3 separate regions of the Homo sapiens genome follow, and regions 2 and 3 are each linked to region 1. Evidence: fine-mapped expression QTL. A gene starts in region 1. Each other region holds a variant in brackets. All regions are shown on one strand. Distances are between the middles of the regions. Region 1 holds the start of SPARC (secreted protein acidic and cysteine rich). Region 2 overlaps GLRA1 (glycine receptor alpha 1). Region 3 overlaps G3BP1 (G3BP stress granule assembly factor 1).

What was found. PIP is the estimated chance that this variant, and not a neighbour inherited with it, causes the effect.
Region 2: its variant is fine-mapped to the expression of SPARC in whole blood (INTERVAL, PIP above 0.99).
Region 3: its variant is fine-mapped to the expression of SPARC in whole blood (INTERVAL, PIP above 0.99).

The regions. Positions count from the first base shown.
Region 1 is chr5:151,682,085-151,690,364 of GRCh38, forward strand. SPARC (secreted protein acidic and cysteine rich) reads right to left here and starts at 4,831. Exons shown (of 10, transcript NM_003118.4): 1 at 4,781-4,831. CLMAT3 (colorectal liver metastasis associated transcript 3) reads left to right here. Exons shown (of 5, transcript NR_109873.1): 4 at 3,745-3,867; 5 at 4,298-5,826. RefSeq lists enhancers at 2,284-3,113, 3,942-4,771, 4,772-5,599.
Region 2 is chr5:151,833,996-151,841,995 of GRCh38, forward strand. All of the region lies in intron 7 of GLRA1 (glycine receptor alpha 1), which reads right to left. Among named protein-coding and RNA genes, the nearest start is that of G3BP1, 66 kb to the left of the region's middle. The variant C/G (reference allele first, on the strand shown) is at 4,533.
Region 3 is chr5:151,800,067-151,808,346 of GRCh38, forward strand. It overlaps G3BP1 (G3BP stress granule assembly factor 1), which reads left to right. Exons shown (of 12, transcript NM_005754.3): 10 at 152-280; 11 at 694-803; 12 at 3,819-8,280. The coding sequence ends at 4,025. Among named protein-coding and RNA genes, the nearest start is that of G3BP1, 32 kb to the left of the region's middle. The variant A/AT (reference allele first, on the strand shown) is at 4,319.

The DNA of each region.
Region 1 (8,280 bases):
GAAGCTTTTTAGAGCCTTACCTCTCTCCACTTGCCCCTTGACTCCCTGCTTCCACTTCTATTTCCTGCTGGAAGGAAAGACGCTAAAGGAAACTTTTAAGGTGTGGTAGCTAAAACTTAGGACTGGAGAGCTTCTGGGGCAACTCAGAGGTGGCTCCAGAGTTTGGGGCTGGAATCAGCCCGAGATTCCATAAAGACATCTGAGATGCCACATTTCACTGTGGCTAGCAGAGGCTGGGGTGGAGCTTCAGGCTTCATCCTTGGCTCCCTCTAGGGCACCGCTGCTGCATTGTGGTGACCACAAATGAAAGGATGAGAAATAACATCAAAGTGTCCAGGCTATTGCATCTGGAAAAGCCTCCGAGATCCCAAAGATAGCAAATATGTGGCATATGTGACAAACACGTGGCCTCCACCTACCCCTCCTGCACATGTGGCAGACATTACTAATCAATCGCTTGACCTCTTCTCCTAAAGCTTAGAGAGTCATCAGAATCCTGAACACAGTTCTTCTGACAGCCACTACCGATGAATTAGTGATGTTGTCAGGCCACATGAAACCTCTGTGTGCTGCCTCTTATTGTAGAGGTAGAGAAATTGAGGCTTAGAGAAGGAAAATACCTCACTGGAGGTCACACGGCAAGCTGGTGTCTAAGCCAAATTTCCAGATGTTCAAAAACATCCAGATGTTTGCTTTGCTTTTTTTATCTGATAGGTCTGAAATCCTAATGCCATGACTAACATCAAGATGACCCAGAGTGATCCCCAGATGAGAGAAGTTAATACCAAGTTTCTGAAAGAAACCAGCTCTGACAACAATTGTTGTCTATGTTCATGTTTTCCTTGCAGACATAAAGTTCTATAGCTTGATGGGTGAGAGCAGAGATGATTTCCTGTCTAAGCTGCCAGTTGAGGAGAGGCTGTTTCTCTAAATAATTCCGTCAAGTCACTACTTGCTGGCCCTGGCCCTGCACAGCCCAGCTGTCCCTGGGTTCAGGATTGAGGTTGGGAGGGAGGGAGGGAGGGAGGGAGGCATCAGGGTCTGTGCTGTAGAAACAAGGTCCTCAGGGTTGCTGAAAGCTCAAGGCTGGTTTTCCCTTCTCTCCTTTGAAACTGACGTTTGGGAGGGAGCCAGCTAGAAGCAAGGGAGCAGCCGCCTACAGGCACATCATGCAGGGCCTTTGGGCCTAATGACAAAGCCACGTGGGCTGGAATAGGCATTGCAGGCCAGCCAACGGGAGAGACAAAGTGCTGCTCACCACTTAGTATCCATGGGGCTTGTGTGCATAAGTGTGTTTCCAAACTGAACAAATGGGGATTGGGGGGGAAGGCAAGGTGAATATCAAAATGGCTCCAAACACGTGGAAGTTTGGCTCAGACGCCAGCTTGCTATGTGACCTCCAGTGAGTTATTTTCTCTTCCTGAGCCTCAGTTTCTCTCTCTCTGAGACATAGAGGTGGTTGGTGATAAATGTAGGTTACACGTCTGTCTCATTGTCATGATCCATATTATGTTTGACTGTGCATATGTTTGACTGTGCACATCCATCCATGTGTGGCTGCAAGTGGCGGTGTGTGTTTGTATACCTGATGGCATGTCTGTGTAAGTTACATACAGCCTGACTTAGCATCTGTCTGTTTCAGCCTGTAATAGGCGAGGGTCAGAATTTTCACATTCATTGAGATATATTCCTGGAACTTGTCTGTAAATCATTGTCATCCAGGAAGAGGTGTGTGAGTGAATGACTTTCTGTGTCTGCTCCTGTAATGAGGCACTTATTTTTAGCTGAGCCAGTGGGTGCCTGTTGATGAAATCGATGTTTATACTCTTCATCCCTATGGGTTTGTACCTGTCCCTGTTTATCTCTGCATATTTATCTACCTACATAAACAACTTCAAAAGCCAAATATTCTACTGTTTACCTCACATCCTCAGCTCTTTCCTTTCCTTCACCATTCTTTCTTATTTATAGCTTGTTTTCAGCAAGGAAAGCTGCTCTCATGAATAGCAAACCCCAGCCACACTGTTGATTGACAAATCTCTACAGATGGATAAGGATTACAGCATGATGGTTATGCAACTCAAGATCCCCTAGCCCATCTTTTCTTGTTTTCTTTTCAACTGGGGGTGCAGTAAGGCGGTGTTAAAAATGCAGGCAAGCTATTCCTTTGAATAAAAGCGGTATCTGGGATTTAGGTTTATAGGACTTCAGAGTTAGAAGGGTGCCTGGGAAATCATCTAGCTTAGAAACTCTATTTAACAGTTTGGGAAACTGCAGCCTCAAGAGAGGAAGTGTCTTTCCCAATGTCAGGCACTGGGAGTTAGAACACACTTTTTTTTTTTTTTTTCACCCTTGGCCAATGCTTTTCCTACATAGAGGGCACAACAGTCTTGGGAAATACACAAGAAGTTCCCCAAATCAAAATGAAGATAAACAATATTATGATTTTAAAATTTTTCCTGTCAGTACTTCTAGTAAAGGAAAGTTCTATACAAACCCCAAGATGATGGAGCTGCCAGGAAAAAAAAAAAAAAAAAAAGCTGAGAATGATTTCACTAGGTCTTTGGATGCCTTTAATCCATCAGTTCTAAAACCCTTTGCATTATGAGGGAATGCCACAATTCGCAAAGTGCTTCCCTGTGCATTATCCCATTTCTTCTACACACTATCTACCCCCTAGAGGTGGCTGCTGTTACTGTTCTTTAACTGTAGAGGGAATGGGGCCCAGAAAGAAGTATTAGTTCAAGGTCAAATGGTACCTTCAGGGCACAGCCAGAGCTAAAACCCAGGTCTTCAAACACCCTTGCAAGGAGATTATCATGGCCCAAGGCTTCCCCGGAATCCTGAGAGATCACAAGGGCAGGGCCTAGAATTTGCTGCAGGCCTTGAATTTGGGGGTGGGGTACGTTCAGACTGATGTTCTTAGAGGGTTTCAAGGGTCCCCTCCAGCCAGCAGGCAGAGACCCTGAAAAAAAGGTTACCGTGGCAACTCGCATTCCTCGGAGAGTGAGTCAGGCAGAGAAGAGCCTTCTGGTGGGTGGGACTTGGAGAAAGTTTCAAAAGTTGATTCCTTCTCCAGGCAACCCCCTTCTTCTCCTCCCTCCCCCTCTTTGCTCTAGGCTATGTCGATGTGGCAGCTGATAGCTGAGAGTTAACTCTCTCTTTCCTCAACCACTCCCTTTTCAGAAGGCTTCATCCTCCAGCAAATACACACATTTGTTACCAGTCCTCACTCCATCCCCACGTCATGCCCTCTAATCCATTTGAGAATATCTTAAAGCTGAAAGCTGTGACCACCCATATTCATCCTCTCTCTCTCTCTCTCTCCCTCTCTCTCTCACACACACACACACACACACACACACACACACACAGTGCATACAATTTTTAGGGGCTTAGAGATGGCTTGAGGCCCATTCAAAGACCACTCCATAGACCCTGGTTAAGAAATCTTCCTTTGAATATTTTAGAGGACACAAAGCACCCCAAAGAGCCTTCAGTTTCAGCCTTCTTTCATTACAGATGGGGCACTAAATCCAGGGGAGACACTTACCTAAGATCACACATAAAATGCATGCCCGAAGCCTGTGTCCTACTTCTGCTTTGCTTCTCACTAAACCACCAGCACTTGGGGCGTATAGAAATTTAACTCTAAAGCATTACTAGAGAAAACATTTTCTCTAATGAAAAAAATGCTGTCCTTTCCTGAGGAAAATGCATGCCTCTCTGTTCCCTTTTGGGCAGACTGGGAATCCTGGAAGACATAACTCATCCCAGTGCCCCCCTTCCCTTGGAGTCCTTGGAGTCCCTTTCCCTAAGGAAGTCCACTTGACAGCCAGTTCACGGAGCCAGTGGCGGCGAAGAAAGGTAGTGGATTTGTCTGAAGAAGAACTGACACCCTGACAGGCTGGACACTAGTCTTGGGTGGATTACGGAAGGGGACCCTGGAATTCTCTCCCTCTTCCCTTCCCCCTTTCCCCCTTCTGAGAATATCTCCCCCAGCACACTCCACCTCCCATTACACCCATGTCTTGGTTGACGATATCTGATGTCTGGGTTTTCAGATCTAGATAAACTAAGGGCTACTGCCTGTGTTTACCATCCCAAGGAACTCAGGACAGGAACAACACCTAACCCAAGACTGAGGTTGTGATGGTGCCATTTCAGGCAGAATGGTGCTGAAATTTGTGTATTGGGGGGACGGAAGGTGGTGTTTGGGAGTGAGGAGAATTAGAGGAAAACAGAAGGCTTCCCAGAGGTGTGGATTAATGGTGAAGCCTCCCCCTTTGCCTTTCAGAGATCAACTGATTGTTCGTGCAAAGTCCCTTTTGGAAAACAGAACCCCTGACCGAGATCTGGAGGACAGACTCCGGTTGCTGGCCAGGTCCCTGTGGCAGCTGTGATGGGATCAGATTCCCAGGAAAGGAGGAGGCTGCCACATTTGCAAAGGGAGCAAAGAGGACAGGCAGGCAGCCTCTGAAACCAGAGACAGACACAGAGAAAAACAGAGAGTGAGAAAATGCTCCCCCGAAGACATAGTGAGATTATTTTCTGTAAACCTGTAAGGGAAGACAAAGTTACACAGTGAGTCCACCTTCTGAAAAGCAACAGGCAGACAGGACCGAGGGCCATGCTCTTAAGGGGAGCCGTGATGGAGCCGGGAGGAGAGGCGCATCCTCAGCAGAGCTTCCCTCCCTTGCACACGAGCTGACGGCGTGAACGGGGGTGTCGGGGTTGGTGCAACTATAGAAGGGAAAGGCTGGGCGGGGGTCACACATACCTCAGTGGCAGGCAGGCAGGCGGCAGGCAGAGCGCGCTCTCCGGGCAGTCTGAAGGACCGCGGGAATGTGGAGGGGTTTAGAGACAGGCAACAGGAAACCACTCAGAGCTCTGGGCTGGGTCTATCTCCCCTCCACCCCGTGGTCCCTCCTCCTCCTGTCTCCTCCTTCCCCCGGCCTCCTCCTTCTCCCATAGCCAAAGCTGTCTCTGTCTTTCATTTCTTTCCTCCTCTTTTTGCGGTGGGCTGTCCTGACCAAACGTCCCAACCCTGCCTGCCTCATCTGTTCCGGGGCTGCTGCCTAAACCGACTCACAGAGTGCCAGGGCTGGACAGGCCTGGAGGGATGACCCAGAACAGCCTCTTTCTTGTTCAGAGGGCAAGTGAGGCCTGGAGACTGCAAGGAATTACCCAATGGCCCCCAGGGGCAGAACCAGGCCCAAGTGTCTTGATCTTCTAACCAGTGAGCTTTACAGGAGTCCTCCCTAATATTAGGCAATGCTGAGAAGGGCCAAGCAATTCAAGGGGGTTGTATTTGCCACAAAGGCAAGGCCAGGACTTACCACTGTACAGACAAGACAAGCTGCTACTAGTGGTATCATCCTTGATGATTTGGAACTGGTCTTAAAAAAAAAAATCCCACTCAAACTCCACTTGTACCACTAATAGACACATAAGGGATTAGACATCTAGCTGGTGGACCTGTGCCACCAGTATTGAACAGATAAGGTAATTGATGATATTGATGATAATCATAGGAGTAACAATAGCCAAAGTTTACTGAGGATTTAATAATCTTCACAGCAACCCCTTATCTTAGGCATTGTAATTATGACCATTTTAATAATAAGGAAACATAGATGCTAAGTAACTTGCCTATGATCACCTGGCAAAAAGTGGTATGAGAGGGCTGATTCTACGTTTCAACTTGGGTCACTCCTGTTATATATGAACTGCTCAGTGCAACAGGTCTTGGTTGAATGTTTATTTTGTGCCTAACACTCTGGGAGGTATGAGAATTAATAAATACCTGGTCCTTGTCCTCAAAAAGTTTTGTGGTTTCCGGTTTTTTTGTTTGTTTGTTTTGTTTTGTTTTGAGACAGAGTCTCACTCACTCTGTCGCCCAGGCTGGAGTGCAGTGGTATGATTTCGGCTCACTGCAACCTCTGCCTCCCGGGTTCAAGCAATTATCGCGCCTCAGCCTCCAGAGTAGCTGGGATTACAGGCGCACATGCCACAACACCCAGCTAATTTATTGTATTTTTAGTAGAAATGGGGTTTCAACATGTTGCCCAGGCTGGTCTCGAACTCCTGAGCTTGGGCAATCCGAATGCCTTGGCTTCCCAAAGTGCTAGGATTACAGGCGTGAGCCACCGCACCCAGCTTAGCTTTGTGGTTTCTTAAATTCTTTTTTAATTTTTTTAGACGAGTTAAGTGCAGAACTGAGAAGGGAAAAAAAGTACAAGGAATTCAATCTGTGACTGTGAACAATCAATCGAGATAACTCACTATTCAAGGAGCTTTGGATCTTGCTGAAAGGTTGTGCCTTACACATACACCCACTTACATGAGTGGTACAGACTCTAAGGCTTATCCCAGGGCTTCAGATTGGTGGATTCCTGAAAGAGGTGGACCTGGAAGCATGGGTTGGGTTTGAATACCATGGAAAGGAAGAAGGCAGAGAACACCCTCATGATACACTTCCATCCGCTGTGGCCCCTGTCTCTCTTGCCATTCTCTCCTCCTACCACTGTCCTCTGTGCCCACGCTGCTCCAGCCATGCCAACTTCCTTCCAGTCCTTCAACTACCCCAAAGCTTCTCCCACCCCAGGATTTTTTTTTTTTTTTTGAGACAGACTCTCACTTTGTTGCCCAGGCTGGAGGGCTGTGGCGCAATCTCAACTCACTGCAACCTCCACCTCCTGGGTTCAAGTGATTCTGCTGCCTCAGCCTCTCAAGAAGCTGGGATTACAGGCATGCACCACCACACCAGGCTAATTTTTGTATTTTTAGTAGAGACAGGGTTTCACCATGTTGGCCAGACTGGTCTCGAACTCCTGACCACAAGTGATCCGCCCGCCTTGGCCTCTCTAAGTGTTGGGATTACAAGTCTGAGCCACCATGCCCAGTATCTTTGCATTTGCTCTTACCTCTGCCAGAGACACTCTTCCACCTGATTTTCCTGTGCCTATTCTAATGTCACCTCCTTAGGGCCACTCAATCTACTTGCCTCTCTCACAGGCACAGTTCATCGCCTTACACTGTTTTATTTCCTCCCCATCACCTGTCATTCTCAGAAACCATTTGTTTCCCCAACTAGACAGAAGCTTGGTGAGAGCAGGGACTTCACATGTCTGTTTACTGCTTTGTTCCCAGCATGTTGACCAGTGCCCCACACAAAGCTGGCTTGCAATATTTTATTCAATAAATATATGAACTTCCGACTTGCCCATCTGAAAAAAGAGAGGGTTGTCTTTTACTAGGGTTCCAGCCTGGAACACTGCCCCACACCCAAGAGACCCTCAAACCACTAAAGTGGAATATAAAAGTTAGGGTGTTTGGTCCTTTTGAGAACCTAAAGGAAGCAATGAACTTTCTCTGCAGAAAAATCCACAAACACCCAAGAAGGAGTCTTCTCCAAATGACCCCCAAGGGCCGGGTGCAGTAGTATGTTCCTGGAGTCCCAGCTACTCTGAGGCTGAAGCAGGAGGATTGCTTAAGGCCAGAAGCCTGAGACTAGCCTCGGTGACAGAGCAAGATGCTGTCTGTAATAATAATAAAATAATAATAATAATAATAAGGCCAGGCATGGTGGCTCACTCCTGTAATTCCAGCCCTTTGGGAGGCTGAGGCAGGTAGATCACCTGCGGTCAGGAGTTCGACACCAGGCTGGCCAACATGGCAAAACCCTGTCTCTACTAGAAATACAAAAGAAATTAGTTGGGCATCATGGCACGTGCCTGTAATCCCAGCTACATGGGAGGCTGAGGCAGGAGAATCGCTTGAACCCAAGAGGCGGAGGTTGCAGTGAGCCGAGATGGCACCATTGCACTCTAGCCTTGGAGACAGAGCAAGACTCCGTCTCTAAATAAATAAATAAAGACCCCCCAAGGCCTCTCACCCTGGTTCAAAAGCCAAGTGCTTTTGGCTGCTGAATACAGGGTGCTGGTGGACTCTCCACATATCTGTTTTGCCATCCGGACAGATGTATATTTTTATAGGATTGGTTGCTATAGCTCCCAGGCATTATGGGACTAAAATTAGCAGAAGCTTTGTATTTTTATTCATAAACTAAAATGATGATTCTGATGAGGATGAACCAGTGGAACTCTTCCCAGTTTTTGGCTGGTGTTCCCATGTGGCTTTCAGTTCAGGAAGTGGAAGTCTGGTTGGGGCTGGGCTGAAGCTCTGGAAGAGAGATCCCTCCTGAGGGCCACTTCCAGGTCTCTGTGGGGACACCCTGAGCCAGAATCACTCCCAGAAAGAAAACTTGGTAGGTTTTAT
Region 2 (8,000 bases), 150 kb after region 1:
AAAGAGACTTAGACTCTCACACAATAATAGTGGGAGACTTTAACACCCCACTGAAAATAATATTAGATCAACGAGACAAAAAATTAACGAGGATATTCAGGATGTGAACTCAGCTCTGGACCAAGCGGACCTAATAGAAATTACAGAACTCTCCACCCAAAATCAACAAAATATACCTTCTTCTCAGCAACACATCACACTTATTCTAAAATTGACCACATAATTGGAAGTAAAACATTCCTCAGCAAATGCAAAAGAATGGAAATCATAACAAACAGTCTCTCAGACCACAGCACAATCAAATTGAAACTCAGGATTAAGAAACTCACTCAAAACCACAAAACTCCACGGAAACTAAACAACCTGCTCCTGAATAACTACTGGGTAAATAACGAAATTAAGGCAGAAATGAATAATTTCTTTGAAACCAATGATAACAAAGACACAACATACCAGAATCTCTGGGACACATCTAAAGCAGTGTTTAGAGGAAAATTTATAGCACTAAATGCCCACAGGAGAAAGCAGGAAAGATCTAAAATTGACACCCTAACATCAGAATTAAAAGAACTAGAAAAGCAAGAGCAAACAAATTCAAAAGCTAGCAGAAGACAAGAAATAACTAAAATCAGAGCAGAACTGAAGGAGATAGAAACATGAAAAACCCTTCAAAAAATCAGTGAATCCAGGGCTGGTTTGTTGAAGATTAATAAAATATATAGACTGCTAGCCAGCCTAATAAAGAAAAGAGGCTGGGCGTGGTGGCTCATGCCTGTAATCCCAGCACTTTGGGAGGCCAAGGTGGGTGGATCATGAGGTCAAGAGATCAAGACCATCCTGGCTAACACGATGAAACCCCGTCTCTACTAAAAAATACAAAAAATTAGCCGGGCGTGGTGGCAGGCGCCTGTAGTCCCAGCTACTTGGGAGGCTGAGGCAGGAGAATAGCGTGAACCCGAGAAGTGGAGCTTGCAGTGAGCCAAGATTGCGCCACTGCACTCCAGCCTGGGCGACAGAGCGAGACAACATCTCAAAAAAAAAAAAAAAAAAAAAAAGAGAAGAATGAAATAGACACGATAAAAATGATAAAGGGGATATCACCACTGATCCCACAGAAATACAAACTACCATCAGAGAATATTGTAAACACCTCTATGCAAATAAACTAGAAAATCTAGGAGAAATGGATAAATTCCTGGACACATACACCCTCCCAAGACTAACCCAGGAAGAAGTTGAATCCCGGAAAAGGTCAATAACAAGTCTGAAATTGACACAGTAATTAATAACCTACCAACCAAAAAAAGCCCAGGACCAGAAGGATTCACAGCCAAATTCTACAAGAGGTACAAAGAGGAGCTGGTACCATTCATTCTGAAACTATTCCAAACAATAGAAAAAGAGGGACTCCTCCCTAACTCATTTTATGAGGCCAGCATCATCCTGATACCAAAACTCATTTTATGAGGCCAACATCATCCTGATACCAAAACCTGGCAGAGACACAACAAAAAAAGAGAATTTCAGACCAATATCCTTGATGAACATCGATTAGAAAATCCTCAATAAATTACTGGCAAACTGAATCCAGCAGCACATCAAAAAGCTTATCCATGACCATCAATTCAGCTTCATCCCTGGGATGCAAGGCTGGTTCAATATATGCAAATCAATAGACATAATCCATCATAAAGACAGAACCAATGCCAAAAACCCATGATTATCTCAATAGATGCAGAAAAGGCCTTTGATAAAATTCCACACCCCTTCATGCTAAAAACTCTCAATAAACTGGGTATTGATGGAATGTATCTCAAAATAATAAGAGCTATTTATGACAAACCTGCAGCCAGTATCATATAGAATGAGCAAAAGCTGGAAGCATTCCCTTTGAAAGCCAGCACAAGACAAGGATTCCCTCTCTCACCACTCCTATTCAACATAGTATTGGAAGTGCTGGCCAGGGCAGTCAGGCAAGAGAAAGAAATAAAAGGTATTTAAATAGGAAGAGAGGAAGTCAAATTATATCTGTTTGCAGATGACATGATTGTATATTTAGAAAACCCCATTGTCTCAGCCCAAAATCTCTTTAAGTTGATAAGCAACTTTAGCAAAGTCTCAGGATACAAAATCAATGTGCAAAAATCACAAGTATTCCTATACACCAATAATAGACAGAGACCCAAATAATGAGTGAACTCCCATTCACAACTGCTGCAAAGAGAATAGAATACCTAGGAATACAGCTTACAAGGGATGTGAAGGACCTCTTCAAGGAGAACTACAAACCACTGCTCAAGGAAATAAGAGAGGACACAAACAAATGGAAGAACATTCCATGCTCATGGATAGGAAGAATTAATATTGTGAAAATGGCCATACTTCCCAAAGTAATTTATAGATTCATTGCTATCACCATCAAGCTACCATTGACTTTCTTCACAGAATTAGAAAAAACTACTTCAAATTTCATATGTAACCAAAAAAGAGCCCACATAACCAAGACAATCCTAAGCCAAGAGAACAAAGCTGGAGGCATCACACTACCCAACTTCAAGCTATACTACAAGGCTGCAGTAACCAAAACAGCATGATGCTGGTACCAAAACTGATATATAGACCAACGGAACAGAACAGAGGCCTCAGAAATAACGCCACATAACTATAACCATCTGATCTTGACAAAAACAAGCAATGGGGAAAGGATTCCCTATTCAATAAATGGTGTTGGGAAAACTGTCTAGCCTTAAGCAGAAAACTGAAACTGCACCCCTTCCTTACACCTTATACAAAAATTAAGATGGATTGAGGACTTAAATGTAAGACCTAAAACCATAAAATCCCTAGAAGAAAACCTAGGCAATACCATTCAGGACATAGGCCCAAACAAAGCCTTCATGACTAAAACACCAAAAGCAATGGCAACAAAAGCCAAAATTGACAAATGGGATCTAATTAAACTAAAGAGCTTCTGCACAGCAAACAACAACAACAACAACAAAAAACCAAAAAACTATCATCAGAGTGAACAGGCAACCTACGGAATGGGAGAAAATTTTTGCAATCTATCCATCTGACAAAGGGCTAATATTCAGAATCTATAAAGAACTTAAACAAATTTATAAGAAAAACAACCCCATCAAAAAGTGGGCAAAGGATATGAACAGACACTTCTCAAAAGAAGACATTTATGCAGTCAACAAACATATGAAAACAAGCTCATCACCACTGGTCATTAGAGCAATGCAAATAAAAACCACAATGAGATACCATGTCATGCCAGTTAGAATGGCCATCATTAAAAAGTTAGGAAATAACAGATGCTGGAGAGGATGTGGAGAAATAGGAATGCTTTTACACTGTTGGTGAGAATGTAAATTAGTTCAACCATTGTGGAAGACAGTGTGGCAATTCCTGAAGGATCTAGAACTAGAAATATAATTTGACCCAGCAATCCCAATACTGGGTATATACCCAAAGGATTATAAATCATTCTACTATAAAGACACATGCACACGTATGTTTATTGCAGCACTGTTCACAATAGCAAAGCCTTGGAACCAACCCAAATGGCCACCAATGATAGACTGATAAAGAAAATGTGTCACATATACACTATGGAATACTATGCAGCCATAAAAAGGATGAGTTCATGTCCTTTGTGGGGACATGGATGAAGCTGGAAACCATTATTCTCGGCAAACTAACACAAGAACAGAAAACCAAATACTGCATGTTCTCACTCATAAATGGGAGTTCAACAATGAGAATACATGGACACAGGGCAGGGAACATCACACACCAGGGCCTATTGGGTGGTAGGGGGCTAGGGGAGGGATAGCATTAGGAGAAATACCTAACGTAGATGATGGGTTGATGGGTGCAGCAAACCACCATGACGTGTGTATACCTATGTAACAAACCTGCATGTTCTGCACATGTATCCCAGAACTTAAATAAAATGTCCATTTTTAACAAAAATTCTAAGACATGCAAAGAAAGAGGAAAGTATGGCTCATACATAGGGAGAAAAGTAGTCAAAAGAAGCTGTCCCTGAGGAAGCCCAGATGCTGGACTTAATAGACAAAGACTTTAAATCAGTTATTTTAAGTATGTTCAACAAACTAGAGGAAACTATGTCTAAACAACTAAAGGAAAATATGAGAGCAGTGTCTCACCAAATATAGCATATTAATAAAGAGAAATGATAGCCTGTAATCCCAGCACTTTGGGAGGCTGAGGCAGGTAGATCACCTCAGGTCAGGAGTTTGAGACCAGCCTGGCCAACATGGTGAAACCTCGTCTCTACTAAAAATAGAAAAAATTAGCCAGGTGTGGTGGTGCATGCCTGTAATCCCAGCTACTCGGGAGGCTAAGATTGGAGAATTGCTTGAACACAGGAGGCAGAGATTGTAGTGAGCCGAGATCGTATCACCGCACTCTAGCCTGGGCAACAGAGTGAGAGTCCTTCTCAAAAAAAGAAATGATAAAGAAGAACCAAATAGAAATTCTGGAGTTGAAAAGTAAAATAA[C/G]TGAAATGAAAACTTCACTAGATGGAATCAACAGTAGATTTAAGAAGACAGAAGAATCAGGAAACTTAAAGAAGAATCAGTGAATTTTAGATTATATGGTCTGAGGAACAGAATGAAGAAAAATAAACAGCCCCAGAAACCTGTGGGAAACCATGTAATGCACCAACATAATGTTTAATAGGAATTTGCAGTGGAGACAGAAAGAATATTTAAAAAAATAGTGCCTGAAAACTTATCAAATTTGATTAAAAATAGTAATCTATACATCTAAGAAGCACAGGGAAATCCAAGTAAGATAAAGAGATCCACACCTAGACACATCCTAATCAAAATGTCAGAAGACAAAGTCAGAATCTTTTTTTTTCAGATGGAGTCTCGCTCTGTTGCCCAGGCTAGAGTGCAGTGGCTAGATCTCTGCTACTGCAACCTCCACCTCCCAGGTTCAAGAAATTCTCCTGCAAAGGCAGAATCTTAAAACAGCAAAAGAGAAGCAACTCCTTTTGTACAAGGGATTCTTGATAAGATTAACAGTTGTATTCTCATTAACACCATCGGGTACAGAAGATAGTGGGATAACATTTTCAAAGTGCTGAAAGGAAAAGACTGCCAATTTTTCTCAAGAATTCTGTATCCCTTAAAAATGAAAAATACATTTTTAGGTAAACAAAAGCTGAGAGACTTCCGCTAGCAGATCTGTCCTACAAGAAATACTAAAGGACGCCCTTTAGGCTGAAATAAAAGGATGCTAGACAGTAACTCAAATTCATACGAAGAAATAAGGAGTATTAGTAAAGGTAACTGCATAGGTAAATATTCAAGACAATATAAAAAATGCAGTTTTTGTTTATAACTTTTTTCTCCTATCTGATTTAAAGGACAGTTGAGTAAATCAATGATTGTAAACCTGTGTTAATCAACATATAATGAAGATGTAATTTGTATGATAATAGTGCAAAGGAAGGGGGAGGTAATTGAGATATATATAGGAGCAAAGTTTTTTGCGTACTGTTTGTTATGAACTGAATATTTGTGTGCCCCTAGCATTTGTATGTTGAAGTCCTTACCCCCATTATGACTGTATTTGGAGACAGGGCCTATGAGGAAGTGATTAGGTTAGACTTAGGGTTAGGGTTAGGGTTAGATCTTAGAGGTGAGATCTTTAGGGTGAGATCTTACAGGTGGGGCCTTAATTCAATAGGATTTAGGGAAGAAGAGATACCAGAACTCTTTCTCTACCATGTTAGGACAAAGCAAGAAAGTGGTCATCTGCAAACCTGAAAAAGAACCTTCACCAGCAACTGAATTAGCTGCCACCTTGATTTTGGACTTCCCAGGTTTCAGAACTATGAAAAATAAATTTTTATTGTTTAAACCACCAAATCTGTGGCATTTCTTTTAGCAGTCCAAGTAAACTAAGACACTGTTGTAATTAAGTTAGTATTAATAATCTGAATTAGATGTTTCTAAAATAAGATGAAATTGTAATCCTCAGGGCAATCATGAAAAAAATAACTGGAAAAAAATAGTAAAAGAAATGACCAGGGAATTAAGATGACACGCTAGAAAATACTGTTTTTTTTTTTTTTGATAGTGTCTTGCTTTGTCACCCAGGCTGGAGTGCAGTGTTGCCAGCATGGCTCACTGCAGCCTCAATCTCCAAGGTTCAAGCAGTCCTCCCACCTCAGCCTCCCAAGTAGCTAGGACTACAGCTGTATGCCATTCCATCCAGCTAATTTTTTAAAAGTATTTTTTGTAAAGATGGGATTTCACCATGTTGCTCAGGCTGGTCTTGGACTACTGAGCTCAAGCAACCTACCTGCCTCAGCCTCCCAAAGTGCTGGAATTACAGGCATGAGCAACTGCACTCACAAAAATACATATTTAATGCAAAAAGGCAGTAACGGAGGAACAAAGACACAAAAAAGATAAGATATATATAGAAAACAACACAATGGCAGATGTAAATTATACGAAATCGCATTTTTTATTACATTAATTAAATTAAGTGGAAATAGACTAAACAAACTAATTGAAAGTTAGAGATTGTCAGACTGGATTAAAAAATAAAATGCAACTACATACTGTCTATAAAAGATACACTTTAGATTCAAAGACACAACTAGGATAAAAGTAGAAGAATGGAAAAAACATACCATGTAAACAGTAACCAAAAGAGGCCTTTAGGTGATTATACCAACATCAGAAAAAAAAAAAACCCACAAACAAACCAGTCTTTAAGAAAAAAAAATTGTTAATAAGAGATGAAGAGCATTTGATAATAAATGAGTCAATCCATCAAGAAATATAACAATTATAAACATCTATGCATCTAACAACAGAGCCCCAAAATATATGAAGCAAAACTGCCTGAATTGAAGCAATAAATAGATAATTCAACAATAATACTTGGTGTCTTCAAAACCCTGCTTTTTATAATGAATAGAATAATTAGAAGATTGCCAAGGAAATGAAAAACTTAATTGACACTGTAAACCAACTAGACCTAAAGAACACCTATAGAACACTCCACACAGTAACAGAAGAATGTACATTCTTCTGAAGTGCACCATGGAGTATTTTCAGAATAAACCATACTATTATGCATAAAACAAGTCTCAAACTTAAAATAGTTGAAATCATACAAAATATGTTTTCTGATTTCAATGGAATATTAAAAATCAATAACCAAAAGAAAGTTGGAAAACTCACAACAATAAATTAAACAATGCATCAAAGAATAAATAAAAGATATATTAAGGAATACTCTGAGGAGAATTGAAAACACAACATACTACAACTAATGAGATGCAGCTAAAATCATTTTTAGAGGGAAGTGTATAACTGTAAACACCTATTTTAAAAAGAAGAAAGGTCCTAAATCAATAACTTTGCACTTTAAGAAACTAGGAGGGCAAACTAAAGTCAAAGCAAGCAGAAGGAAGAAAATAATAAAGATTGGAATGGTAATAAGTAGAACAGTAGAAAAATAATAGAGAAAATCAATGAAACCAAATGTTGATTCTTTGAAAAAATTAGCAAAATTGAATAACTTCTAACTATACTGTTCAAGAAAAAATGAGGGAAGAATCAGATTACTAAAAGAGTGAAAGAGGAGGCATTATCATTGACTTTACAGAAATAAAAAGGATTATAAGGGAATACTTTGAACAACTGTATGCCAATAAATTTGATAACCTAAATGAGGTGGACAAATTCCTAAAAAGACACTGACCCAGAAAGAAATAGAGGCCATTCATGGTGGCTCATGCCTGTAATCCCAGCACTTTGGGAGGCCAAGACGGGTGGATCATCTGAGGTCAGGAGTTTGAGACCAGTCTGGCCAACATGGAGAAACCCCATCTCTACTAAAAATACAAAAATTAGCTGAGCGTGGTGGCGTGTGCCTGTAATCCCAGCTACTTGGGAGGCTGAGGCAGGAGAATTGCTTGAACCCAGGAGTTGGAGGTT
Region 3 (8,280 bases), 120 kb after region 1:
AGTTGATATTTATATACTTTAAAATAAAAATATTGTAGGGTTGATGGAATTACCTGTTTTTAGTGTAGAGGGAAAACTATTGAATGTGAGCAGTCATTGAAAGATGTCTTCTTTCTCTTGTCTTTCATTGATGTTTTTGTCTCCTTTTAAGTCCGTGAGGCTGGTGAGCAAGGTGACATTGAACCCCGAAGAATGGTGAGACACCCTGACAGTCACCAACTCTTCATTGGCAACCTGCCTCATGAAGTGGACAAATCAGAGCTTAAAGATTTCTTTCAAAGTAGGTTATTGAGTTTTGAACACTAAATTCATCTAGTGTCTCTCTAGCACTGTCCAGTAGCAATAGAAAATGAGCCACATATGTAATTATAAATTTTCTAGTAGTCATGGTTAAAAAAAAAAAGGTAAAAAGAAACTGGATAATTTTAATAACATTTAACTTAAGGCATTGTCATTTCAACATGTAAGAATATTGTGAGAGATATTTTACACTTTTTCATAATCTTTGAAATCCAAATGTGCCTCCCATAATTTTACACTTATGAGAGGCACATCTCAATTCAGACTAGCTATATTTATAATTCAAGTGCTCAGTAGTCACATGCATCTAGTGGCTACTGTATTGGACTGTGTACATGTAATGTTTAAAGATAATGGTCTAAGTAGTTATCTGAGAATGTGTTTCACTTGCAGGTTATGGAAACGTGGTGGAGTTGCGCATTAACAGTGGTGGGAAATTACCCAATTTTGGTTTTGTTGTGTTTGATGATTCTGAGCCTGTTCAGAAAGTCCTTAGCAACAGGGTAAGCAGCTTTTTGTCTTGATTTTTTTTTTTTTTTTTTAAAAAGGGTTTTGGTTCTTTAGAATATATCTTTACAGCTGGGTCTTTATGTAAAGTGCAGTTTATTCCAACATGTTCAGGTAATTTATTCATTATTTTCAACCATTATTAAAAGACTTGCCTGGGGGTTTAGGAAAACAAACCTTATGTTTAAGTAACTTAGTTTTTGAAAACATGAATTATGAGAATGAGAAAATGAATAGTTATCAGTGCACTGAGATTTACGTAACTACCTTTCCTTGGTGGTGGCTTTTGGTATACAGGAGATGAAATACAAACCTACTTCTAACTATTAACTAAGATAAGAGCCAGTTTGCCCAGGACAGTTTTGGTATACTGCTGTTTTTAGAGAATAACTATTAAGAGCTTCTTCTTTAAGTTAATAAATTGGATTTGGAAGATAAATTATATAGTCAACCTACTTGGAACCATCCTTACTAACAGTACTCTTACTCTGTACGTTCTAATAATAGAAGAATTTGTAGAATGGAAATCTTACTGTGGGATCCCCAAAGAAAGCTTCCCTTCCTCTAGCAAAAAACTACTTTTTGTAGTAGTAGAGAAGAACAAGTGTATAAATAATATTAATTTACTAAGCTATACTTTTTTATTGAGGTGAAATTTACATAACAAAATTAACCATTTAAAAATGTACAACTTAATTGCATTTAGAACACATTATTGTGCAACCATTACCTTTAATTCCAAAAGTTTTTTACTAAAAGCCATAAGCTCTTTACTCACTAAGCAGTCATTCCTTGTACCTGTCTCCCAACCCCTGGCAGCCACTAATCTGCTTTCTGTCCCTATGAATTAAAATTGTGTACTTTAAACCATATAATAAAAATACTGCAGATCAGTGATATTCTCCAGAATGTTAATGGGCATACTGCAAAGTTTTTTATTTTTTTATTTTTTTTTTTTTGAGACAGTGTCTCTCTCTGCCACCCAGGCTGGAGTGCAATGGTGTGATCTTGGCTCACTGCAACCTCCACATCCTGGGTTCAAGCAGTTCTCCTGCCTCAACTTCCTGAGTAGCTGGGATTACAGGCACCCGCCACCATGCCCAGCTGATTTTTTTGTATTTTTAGTAGACATGGGGCTTCCCCATGTTAACCAGGCTGATCTCGAACTCCTGACCTCAGGTGATCCGCTGACCTTGGCCTCCCAAAGTGCTGGGATTATAGGTGCGAGCCAATGCACCTGGCCTTACTGCATAGTTTAATGTTGTGGTTATAACATGTCAACCTGAGTATGCAAATATACATTATCTTTCAAATTATTTGACCATTTATTTTTGTGAAGCATCTCCTGCAAAATACTGTTTGAGAAATGAGAGAACAGTGGTTTATCTCACCAAAGCCACTGAAGAACCCAGAAATGTCCAGTAGGCTTTGTAGATAAATCCATCATTCAGCATGTATTAGGCCTAGTGGCCACCCTTCATTTCATGGTATTGATAGAAGTCTACTATGCTCCCTTCACTAATTTTTTGTGTGAGCAGAAATAGCTTATGTAAGACTGATTGCCGTGGTGTATGACATACTGTAGTGTAGCTTACCGTTTCAAAGCTTATTTTTCCCTGGAGGCCTTGGTTTGTATTCTCCTTTCATCACTCATTAGTGTTGTGACCCATGGGACAAGTTACTTAACCTCCCCGGCCCTTAGTTTGCTAGTCCTTAAAGTAGGTATCTACCATCAGAGGGTTGTTGTAAAGGTTAAGTGAGCTAATAAATTTGAATAGAGCTGGGCACAGTGGCTCACGCCTGTAATCCCAGCACTTTGGGAGGCCGAGGCGGGCGGATCACGAGGTCAGGAGATTGAGACCATCCTGGCTAACACGGTGAAACCCCGTCTCTACTAAAAATACAAAAAATTAGCTGGGTGTGGTGGCGGACGCCTGTAGTCCCAGCTACTCGGGAGACTGAGGCAGGAGAATGGCGTGAATCTGGGAGGCGGAGCTTGCAGTGAGCCGAGATCGCGCCACTGCACTCCAGCCTGGGCAGCAGAGCGAGACTCCATCTCAAAAAATAAATAAATAAATAAATTTGAATAGAACACTTCCGCGACACATAGTAAGTACTCTTAGATACTCATTTTAAGAAATTAGAAAATTACATTGCTGGTGAAGAGCATAAATTGAATATATTGAAATGTTTCGTAGCCCCTTAACTACTTTGGCTCTGTTAGGAGGAAACGAAGGCCAAGACTATCCAAAATTCTCAGGAGGTGTTAAAGAGCAAATTAAAGTTTATGTCAAATTAATGAAGTTTTTATTTTAAATGTATATGTACTTTGCATAAATATGTACAGTACCATCTTTTCACACTGGTGATGATGAGGTTTTATTCTAAGCCTCCAAATCTATGGAGAAGGTGGCAATTTTTTTTATTTTTTATTTTTTATTGGGACGGAGTCTCACTCTGTCGCCCATGCTGGAGTGCAGTGGCACGACCTTGGCTCACCACAACTTCCGCCACCCGGGTTCAAGTTGCACTCCAGTCTGGGTGACGAGTGAAACTCTGTCTCATTAAAAAAACAAACAAAAAACTGAACTGTGAGAACTTAGCTGATTTATAATCTGCTGGTTCTTTTTTTTTTCTGAGTCGGAGTCTCGCTCTTTTTCCCAGACTGGAGTACAATGGCGTGATCTTGGCTCACTGCAACCTCCGCCTCCTGGGTTCAAGCAATTCTCCTGCCTCAGCCTCCTTGAATAGCTGGAACTACAGGCGTGTGTCACCATGTCTGGCTAATTTTTGTGTTTTTTTAGTAGAGACGGGGTTTCACCATGTTGGTCAGGCTGGTCTTGAACTCCTGACCTCGTAATCCACCCGTCTCGGCCTCCCAAAGTGCTGGGATTACAGGCATGAGTCACCGTGCCCAGCCTCTGCTGGTTCATTATTACAGCTTTCTTTATCTTTGATAGTGATAGCCAGCTCATCAGTACTCTTAAGTCTGGTCACCTTGATTCTTACAGCCCATCATGTTCAGAGGTGAGGTCCGTCTGAATGTCGAAGAGAAGAAGACTCGAGCTGCCAGGGAAGGCGACCGACGAGATAATCGCCTTCGGGGACCTGGAGGCCCTCGAGGTGGGCTGGGTGGTGGAATGAGAGGCCCTCCCCGTGGAGGCATGGTGCAGAAACCAGGATTTGGAGTGGGAAGGGGGCTTGCGCCACGGCAGTGAATCTTCATGGATCTTCATGCAGCCATACAAACCCTGGTTCCAACAGAATGGTGAATTTTCGACAGCCTTTGGTATCTTGGAGTATGACCCCAGTCTGTTATAAACTGCTTAAGTTTGTATAATTTTACTTTTTTTGTGTGTTAATGGTGTGTGCTCCCTCTCCCTCTCTTCCCTTTCCTGACCTTTAGTCTTTCACTTCCAATTTTGTGGAATGATATTTTAGGAATAACGGACTTTTAAAGAAGCAAAAAAAAAGACTGAATTTCCTTGCTTACTTTGCATATACAGACTGG[A/AT]TTTTTTTTTTTTTTTTACAGCCATTTCCCCAAAGGAATGTCTTGCATATTACTGACATTTGGTATGTTTCATTCATTGGAATATTTCTTATTTTCTACGTGTTTGAAAAGCCTGTAAGAAATACAGGATTTGATAATATTTTGAAGGCAGGAAAAACCCAAATTGTTTCTTCTTTGAGAGTCATGACTACCTTCTGGTGTGGAGAAATTGCCATTGGAAAATTTGACAATTTTGATTCTCACTGGTATGTTTAAAAACTGAATAAAAGGAATAGAATTTTTTTTTGATAAAGGATCACAAAACAATTCTAAAACCTAACTGTTTTTACCATTGAAATTTAAATTGTGATAATAGGTTTTAAATGTCTAGAATGCAACTGATAGGCTTTTCTTGAACTGTTAGTTTTTTTGAAGTAGTTTTTTCATGTTTAATTTGTATTTGTAAAAAAACAAAAAGCAAAAAAATTCCCAAAACCCAGATAACAACCAGAGCAAAACTGTTGTGCCTTCTATTTATCTTTGATTTCAGTCTTGGCAATTGTTTAAAAAAAAAATCTAGATTTGTTTTATTAGGTTCAGAGTATGTGGGGAATTATAGAATCCCTCTTTCATCACTTTGTGTATGTCTTTTGTTAACATATTTGTTATGCCTTATTCTAAAATTGAGTCTCAAACTGGAATGCCTTTGAAGACAGATGCTTCTATAGAGGTTCTTTGACCTAAATAGTTCAGCATTTGTATTTTTATTCTGGTATCTAATCAGATTCCTAATCATAGCCCGTAAGAAGGAATGTTACTTTAATATTGGACTTTGCTCATGTGCTCGTGTCCGCATTTTTTTTTTTCTTAAAATCATAGCCATATGGTAAATTTTCTATTTTGTTATGGTTCTCTTTTATTGATGGGCATGCAGTGGGTGTTACTTGGAAATGGCCAATTTTTATTAAAATATTTCTGGAAGAAAATTTAATCTGGCAATATAGACTAATACTCGTTTCACATATGTGTTATTTGTTGAGTGCTGTGTGTGAGATGGGTGAAGGTTTTGTTTACACGTGTGAAACAAACTTTTGTGTGATTGTCATTACTAATTGAAGGGCAACCAGGTTGTAAAATTCAGCGTATTTATTTTCTTAACAGTATTCATCTTTAGGACTGTCGTTTGAGGATAGCATAGGAATATTTGGTTTGCATTACTGAGAAACTCTAGGTTTGCTGTGATGGTTAAGACCACAGTGAAGTTGGTATTACCAGTTTGGTTCCAGTTCCTCAAATATTTGAAAATTGGCAGCATCTCCTTTACATAAACTTAATGTAACTGAATCACATGGCTTTTTTGTAGGGTTAAAGTAACTTTGGTAACCACTTTTGGCCCAGATCACTGATAATAGGAAGAAATACAACTTATACTTTTGTAGCTTATATTAAGCATGTGGTGGGTGGAAAGAAAAGTTTAGTCTGAGTCACTTTGGAAAAAAAAATTACTTTGTGGTAACTTCAAGGTCATAAATTATGGATAGCCTAGAAATTATCCTTCATGAGTGAATACTAAATTATACATTTCAAAACAGAAGTTCTTCCTACTTGGAGACTTAAGGGCATTAACTAGATGCAGCAATCCTCAGCTTGGTGTTATCACATACTAGAGGACATTTGGAAATGTGTGAAATTTGGAAGGGTTGTTGGAGAGACATGCATCTGGCATTTATTGGGTGGGGTCTAAGGATACCAAATGTTGTGTAAAAATGAAGCAACCCCATTGAGAACACTGATAGTCCCTATTCCTGTGGGTGGGTGGAGCTGTGGGATTAGGAAAACTGGAATGAAGACTCATTCTTTTGAAACTCAGCCTCAGATAAATAACAAACTAGGAAATGGAAATCTGTTTCAAGAATTGCAGTAACATCTACTCTAAGGAATTAGTAATTTCACTTTTTATTATTTGTACCAAATGTATGTGTGTGTTGTGTATGTTGGTGTAAATGTGGAGAGGTGGTAGCAATACATACTGATGCTGCTTGTAATTTGTTGCAGGGAATTACTGCACAATCTCAGAAAATAGAAAGCTTCCCCAGTGCTTTCTGTCATCAGAGTTGGGATGATTGTGAGGTTTTGAATGATAGTATTGGACCTAAGAAATAGGATTAGCATCATGATCAGAACTGTTGAGAATCCTTGTACAATTATGTACATTATTGCATGTAGAGTAAACCTGAGAGCTTAGAGATGTATACGTTTCCACTGCTGGAAAATCATTATAAGTTAGGGCAACATTTTCTATAGGTGGCAGCAGTAGGAGCTCATCACATTGAACATTTTCAGATTTTAAAATGAAAATTTTCATCCGTAGGAATGGCCCAATGTATAGTTATTAGCTACTGAGCTTAGAACTCTTGACCCATGAGATTTTTTTTTTAAATTTTTATTTTTATAGAGGCAAGGTCTTGCTATGTTGTCAGGCTGGTCTCAAGCTCCTGGCCTCATCAGTTCTCCTGCCTTCCAAGTAGCCGGAACTACAGGTGTGCACCATTGCACCTGGCCTCATGAGTATTTTAGTTAGATAAGATTTGTTTGGTTCAGTGGGTCTTAGTTTTTTAAGACCTGTTAATTTGTAATTAGACATCTTGGGCCTTAAACTGTATTTTTGTTTTAGTGGTGAGGTTGGGTTTTACTTTGTGTATTCCAGCGTTCTCAACTTTGTCAGATATTGCTAGGGACCAGTGAGATAGATAATCCAAAAATAATAATTTGACTTTGGTTGAGTATGTCATTACCACAGTGTTAGTTGAATTGCACTTTAGGTTAGAAAAGTTAATTTTCACATCTGTGCTGCGGGTTAGGTGATATTGTCCTCAGCACAATAGATGAGGAAGAAACTGAATCAGAACAGTTAAATGACAGGCTTCCAAGTCATCCATGTAGCAAGGAGCACATTTGCCTCCCAAACTGATGCTTTTTCTCTAGAACCATAATGCCCCCCTAATTACATTTCAGTAGCATAGACCGCAATGAACTTCCTACTGTAGGGAGACTTGAGTCTGGAATACATTCAGAACAAGGTTAACATTACAGTTCTTAATTTCCTTTAGGGCAAACAAGATAATTAAACTTGGGTTTTGTGAGTCTTTTTTTGATTTGCAGATTATATATGGTAACACAATAATGGTGGTTTGTTTTTAAGTTTTTTCTCATCAGGTTTGATAATTTAATGCAAACTTCAAATCTGGATGTGAATAATAATATTTTTATTATAGTATAATCCAGGTGAGTTTATAGAATTTGTGTTTTGTGCTTATAAACTGTCACCTTCTGATACTTTTCTTCATCCCTCTATTTGAAAAACCCTTGTAGAATTTAACGATTTAATGGAAAATGTTGCACTTTATAGAAGGCCATTTTAGAACTTACAGGTAACCTTTTTGAAGAGCTTAGATTTGTAGACCACTGTTTATGCTGAGTGACATTTCTTTTAAATGGTTGCATTTGTCAAATCTATAAAGATGTTTTTTATATTGCAGTTTTCTTTTTGTGCTACTTAAAGGAATCTTTGCAATGCTGCATATAGATAATTGTTGACCTTTTTAGTTCAGCAGTTTTTAAACTTGAAGTAACATCAGCATTTATTTGAATATCAGGTTTTAGCTAACTGCCTAATGTACCAAAAAAAAATTAGCAATGTCTTATGTGGGATGAGGGGTTAAGTTAAAGTTGCTGATCAAGTAATGGCCGTGTGGCACAAGATGATAACTAAGAATTTCTGGTTCTAAGGTAGTAATGCCTTTTGGGATTTATATTTGTTTAATGTTGAGATTCTGGGGACCATAGGTGGGCCTGTCAACTCTTAACAGACTATAGTAAAGGAGAGATGGTGGCACATGTGAGATAAAACTTGTTTATATTTACATTCTTATTAGTGGATAGATATCACCTCAGTACAACACTGAAATTAAACTGCCTTGTTC